Linked DNA regions of Homo sapiens: region 1 is linked to region 2. A link means that fine-mapping ties the variant in region 2 to the expression of a gene that starts in the linked region. Tissue or cell type: whole blood. Region 2 holds a variant in brackets; the other region holds the start of a gene. All regions are shown on one strand. Distances are between the middles of the regions.

Evidence for each region. PIP is the estimated chance that this variant, and not a neighbour inherited with it, causes the effect. A credible set is the group of variants that fine-mapping cannot tell apart.
Region 1: it holds the start of RAPGEF3, and the variant in region 2 is the best candidate, but not a certain one, in a credible set for the expression of RAPGEF3 in whole blood (GTEx, PIP 0.89).

What each region holds. Positions count from the first base shown.
Region 1 is chr12:47,757,615-47,760,370 of GRCh38, reverse strand. RAPGEF3 (Rap guanine nucleotide exchange factor 3) reads left to right here and starts at 1,491. Exons shown (of 28, transcript NM_001098531.4): 1 at 1,491-1,820; 2 at 2,293-2,505. The coding sequence starts at 1,815. It also overlaps a transcript of SLC48A1 not described here. RefSeq lists enhancers at 943-1,611, 1,612-2,280 and a silencer at 1,322-1,671.
Region 2 is chr12:47,712,078-47,714,833 of GRCh38, reverse strand. It overlaps ENDOU (endonuclease, poly(U) specific), which reads left to right. Exons shown (of 10, transcript NM_001172439.2): 7 at 1,446-1,559; 8 at 2,212-2,318. All of the region lies in intron 1 of RPAP3-DT (RPAP3 divergent transcript), which reads right to left. Among named protein-coding and RNA genes, the nearest start is that of RPAP3-DT, 7.4 kb to the right of the region's middle. The variant G/A (reference allele first, on the strand shown) is at 1,284.

The DNA.
Region 1 (2,756 bases), 46 kb before region 2:
CAGTTTCCAGGTTGCTCTTCCTTCTTCCAAATTACCAGAACTCCGTTGAATGGATTTGGGTCTGAGGTCAGATTCATTCTCAGGCTTTCCTCCTTCCCCGGAGAGGCATTTAAAACTCCACCAGCGTTTCTTAATGTGTGGACACAGCAGATGACCTGGGGTGTTTGTTCCAAATACAGATTTTCCATTTCATGCCAATAGGATTGAATATGAATTGCTGGGGACGGAGCCTGCATTTTAGTAAGCTTCTGGGAAACATTTTTTATACATGTATACATTAAAAATGGGATTTTAATCACAATTAAAATTTCTCTCCCCACTTTCAAGAAAATAATAATTGGTGGAGGATGGGGGCTTGGCATCCCAAAATTGGGAGTATAGGCTTCTTAGAGCTACCTCTTCCCAGTCTTCTCCTCACTTTCAAGAAAATAATCATGGTGGAGGATGCGGGCTTGGCATCCCAAAATTGGGGTATAGGCTTTTTAGAGATACTTCTTCCCAGTCTGGGCTGGCTCAACAGCAAAGGGAAAAGGGAAGAGAAGGGGCAAAAAGTCCTAAAAAGCTGGGGGTGGGGCGTTCACCTCCTTCCAAACCCTCATTATCGTCCTGAATTACGGGTCGCTGTCCCCGGCCACTGTCTCTCCACCCTCTCAGGAGTGGGGCGAAGAGGCCCGCGCTGGGCCATTTGCACAGTGGTGGAAACTGAGGCCCAGGGAGGCGTGGAGCCTCGGTAGCAAGCCTGCCTAGCAGGGCGCTGGAATGCCCGGTCTCCGCCTCAACCTACCCGGCCACCAGGGAGCGCGCGGTAGGGGGCGTGGTACTCGAACACCTTCTGCTCCCCTGGAAGCTCTGCCACAACCCCAATCTCCTCTTAGGGCCCCTACCCGTTCTGGAGAGCAGTCCTTCCTCTCCAGCCTCAGTTTCCTCAACTGCTCCCGGTGTGTGTGTGCTGGGGCAGGGGGCAGTGGGGCGTGGGTCTGGGAACGGAACTGTGGGAGGCAAGGCAGCGGGATTCCCCGCGGGAAAGCCGCCTATTCCCTCCCCCGGGCGGCTGGAGACCCTGAACCGAAACAGGAGGCAGACACCCCCAGCCGGGAAGCGGCCCCAGCCCGGATTTCCCTCCCGGGTGAGGCCGCAGTGACTCACCCCCTCCCCGCTCTCCCCGGTTTCCTTGTTTGCATTTCTCCTCCCGGCCACGTGGCGGCCAGTGCAGCCACTCACCGCCGGATCCCTGACACCCCGGCCGTTGCGGCCTCCTCCACACACTTCGGGGCCGCTCCTGCCCCCTGGGGATACTCTGGGCTCAGGCGGATGTCCACTCTGGTACCCCCGGGTGCGGACTCCAAAGCCTGCCAGTGCCGGCCCCCTTCCCCTACGCATTCCTCTACCGTAAGGCAGGGCGCCTCCACCCCGCCCCCTCCGCCAGTCCTGGGGAGGGGAAGGGGGCGGGCAGCGCAGGGGGTGTGACAGCTCCCGCCCGGACCGGTGCCAGCGCAGCCTTGCTTCAGCGCCCGGTGCCAGCTGGCTCCTTCGTCTGAGACGAAGGCGCAGGCTCGGGGCTCCCTGTCGCCGGTGGCTGGGTGGCGTCCCCCCACCACGCCCCCACCCCTCTACTCACCCAAGAGGAGCCTCTCCACCGAGCCCTGCATCCTGCTGCCCTGGCAGCCAGTCCAGCTAGGCACTGGCCCAGTTCACTGTACCTGGACTTACCCACTGGCACCCTCCGGATCCCCTTATCAAAGCTGATGGGGGTCGCTGGGGACCCCCCAGCCTTTTGCTAGAGCCTGCACGGCTGTGCGAGCTTGAAAAGAAACATGAAGGTGGGTAAGGTGGGGTCAGGGTTGAGGAGGAGCAGGAGAGGGCGGGAGAGGAAGCTGACACGGTGGGGAGTTTGGGTGGGAGAGGGAGGGTTAGTCAGGGCTGAGGAGGAGAGGAGAAGGGTTTAAGCCGAAGCTGCATTTCTGGGAGACCTAGTGAATCTATAGCTTCATACTGGGAGGTAGTGGAGATCCCTGCAGGGGCATGGGCAGTGAGATGGGACAGAATTCCAAAGAGGACTAAGAAGGGCCTGATCTTTTCCAAGAGCCAGCTGGAGACCCCTAAGTGCGCCAGACCGGCAGGCCCCAGTGAAGGTCTTCCTGTTCCTCCCCCCAGCTCCTGGCAGGGTTGCAGCACCTCCGCCTGACCAGTCCAGAGGACTCTAAGGAAGTAGTTCTGCCTGGGGCAGTTGTACTGTGGCCCAGCCGCCCCAGTCGTGTCCCATGGCTGTCCACTTTCCTCCCCGTGTCACAGGTGGGCTGGCCAGGTGAGAGCTGCTGGCAGGTGGGCCTGGCTGTGGAGGATAGCCCAGCTCTGGGAGCACCGCGGGTGGGAGCCCTCCCTGACGTGGTGCCGGAGGGGACACTACTCAACATGGTGTTGAGAAGGATGCACCGGCCCCGAAGCTGCTCCTACCAGCTGCTGCTGGAGCACCAGCGTCCGAGCTGCATCCAGGGGCTGCGCTGGGTGAGTACCTTTCACCTGCCCAGGTGCCAGGGCCAGTACCAGAGCTAGAGGGGGGCCTAGATCATGGCTTGGCATGCTGCTGGTGGCCCAGCTTGCTCTGGGGGTGTACAGTGGTACAGCTGCCGTGGACACTGGGTCAGGAAGCTTGTCTGCAGTGTGCGTGGGTGGCTCACACAGCTGCAACGTGTGTGTGTCTGTGTGTGTGTTCTGCCCAAATGTCTCTGTTTGGGCATGGGGGGAAGGGGAAAGGG
Region 2 (2,756 bases):
TCTTTGATGGTTCCCTCATTGAAATCTCCAGCCCTGAACTTTCCCAAGGGCCTTCTCAACATCTTCCACTTAGCTATCTAACTGATATTCACACAGAACCTAGTGTAGAAATAATTTTTGGTTCCCATCAAAAATACCTGCTCCTCTCTGGGTCTTCCCCATTTCATAAATGGCGGGCATAACCCATCCGGTTGCTCAGGCCAAAAGCCTAGTAGTTAGATGTAATTGTTCTCTTTACCTCAAAGTTCCCTACTCCCATCTCCTCCATCAGTAATGTAATGTCCATCACTCCCACTTCAAAATATGTCCTGGGCCTACTGCTTCTCTCTCCTCCTCCGGAGTTAACACCACCATCTAAGCCCCATCAACTTCTTACGTAGACAAAGCATGAGCCTCAAGACTGGTCTCTCTGCTTCCACTCATACCACCCCATTGCCTTTTTAACATACACAGCCAGGGTGATCTTTTAAAAGGTCCTATCATACAATTCCCCTGCTTAAAATCCTTCAGTGGCTCTGCACTACCAAGAAGCTATAGAGTTGTTAAAGAGATTGGTCTCTGGAGCTAGACTGAGTGGACTCAAGTGCTGTCTCTACCTTTCATTAACTGTGATCTTGCATGAGTTTTATACTTTGTCCGTCTCAGTTTCTTCATTTCTAAGTTGGGGATAATTAGTACCAAGCTTATATGAAGATTCAACGTGAGGATTCAGTGTTACATTGAAAGCACTTAAAATGGCAGGCACTAGGTGGACAGAAAGCAATTAGTAAATCTAAAACATTTTTTGTTTTATTTCTATTTGCCTGAGACCTGACCTTCTTGCCATGGCTTGAAGGATCTGACCCTTGGCTGCTTCTCAAACCTCCTCTCCTACCACTCTCCCCTCCTGCTCCAGCCTCACTGACTTCTTTTAGTTCTTTGAGTAGCAAACTCAAGTCTGCCTGGAGCCTTTGCTCTTGCAGTTCCCTCTACATGGAGGAATCTTCCCCACAGATCTTTGTGTAGCAAGTTCCTTATCCTTCAGCTCTCTGATCAGTGCTACCTTTTCACAGAGGCCTTTCTGATGTTCCTTTCTAGAAGACCCCCCCCCCCCGCCAACTTATGTGCCAGCCCTTTCCCGTCATTACGGGCTACTTTGCTTCATAGCACTGATCTGAAATCATATTTCTTATTGTTTACTTATTATTTGACTCCTCCAGTGGAATGTAATATAGATAGAGACCGTGTCCTTGCTATTCCCAGCTGAATCCTCAGCCTTTAGATCTGGATTTGGCACAAAATAG[G/A]CATCCCATAGATAATCATTGAATTAACAGCCGAACACATTTGTTGATTGAACCCACATGTTTCTTGACGTGTGGGAGCAAGTAGCTCTTCAGGTCTCTGTTTAGCGCTCCCAGGACCTGGCCCTGCCTCCCCTCTCCAAAACCCTTTGTGTTCCTCTGCAGATCGCTATGGCTCAGAGCAAGAGTTTGTCGATGACTTGAAGAACATGTGGTTTGGGCTCTATTCAAGAGGCAATGAAGAGGGGGACTCGAGTGGCTTTGAACATGTCTTCTCAGGTGGGAGCACTTTTCTTGGAAAGAAAGAGTTGGAGGGATGAAGAGGAATGGCTTTGCTCAGGAGCAGGGCAGCCCTGGGTGTGGATTAATCAGCAGTCCAGCCAGCTAGTAGGGAGGGACCCACGCACTCTCCCCTGCCCATATGGCAGGGGGGCGGGGGGGTGTCTGAGGAGCCATTCTGAGAAACAGTCTTTTCTGGAGTACCTAAGGGGGAAAGAAGACCAGATGCTGGGGCTCCCAAGGGGGTACATCTAGGACAAGACATGTGTCTGGGAGCAAGTTTGCCTACCTCTGAACAGTCCTTTGCTTCCAGGGCCTGGCCAGCTGCTTCCCAAGAGGGCCATGGTCTGTTCCCCCCTATTCTACCCCATAAAACTCCCACCAAGCCTGGCTTGCTGCTGGAGTAATGGCTGAGAGAGGTCATCAGGATCACCAGAAGGAAGGATTCTCCCAAGGGCTTGAGCCAGAAGGGGGGCCTTCCTGAGGTGAGAGATAGGACTGTGAGAGACTCTGGGGACTCACAGCAAGGGGTCAAGCAGCTAGAAGTCAGAGACTGGAGAAGGGGGAAGCCTTGGCATGGGGTGGAGAAAGGGGATTGGAGGGGAGGGTGGGGAAGGAGCCCAGATTATCCATCTTGGACTCTTTATTATAGGTGAGGTAAAAAAAGGCAAGGTTACTGGCTTCCATAACTGGATCCGCTTCTACCTGGAGGAGAAGGAGGGTCTGGTTGACTATTACAGTCACATCTACGATGGGCCTGTGAGTACACGGACTAGAAAAGCCTTGTCAGAGCCCAGATATCCTGCTCTCACTCTGTGTTCCAAACTGTCGACTTGCCTCTCAGCCTGACTCTCAGGGGGCAGCCCCAGGTGATTGTGACTATCACGTCCTCACCTGCTAGACAGCCACTTTAGCCAGCCAGGACACTGGAATTCCCTTCCAAACAGTGAAGGCTCTAGAACTGCAGGGGACAGGAGGCAGGAGGCACCATATCGGGGTGGGAGCCTGGGGCCTGGGGAGGATTCTCAGAGGGAAGAACAAAGATATGTAATTACTCCCTGCCTCAGTTTCCTTAGAACGTGGCTGAAAGTTTCAGCCTGGCTAGTTTGAGCTAAACTTCATACACTTTATAAGACAGAAACCTTTGCTGCCCGGTACCAGGAAATAATTTGGGGGCAGTAAACGATCCTTCTCTTC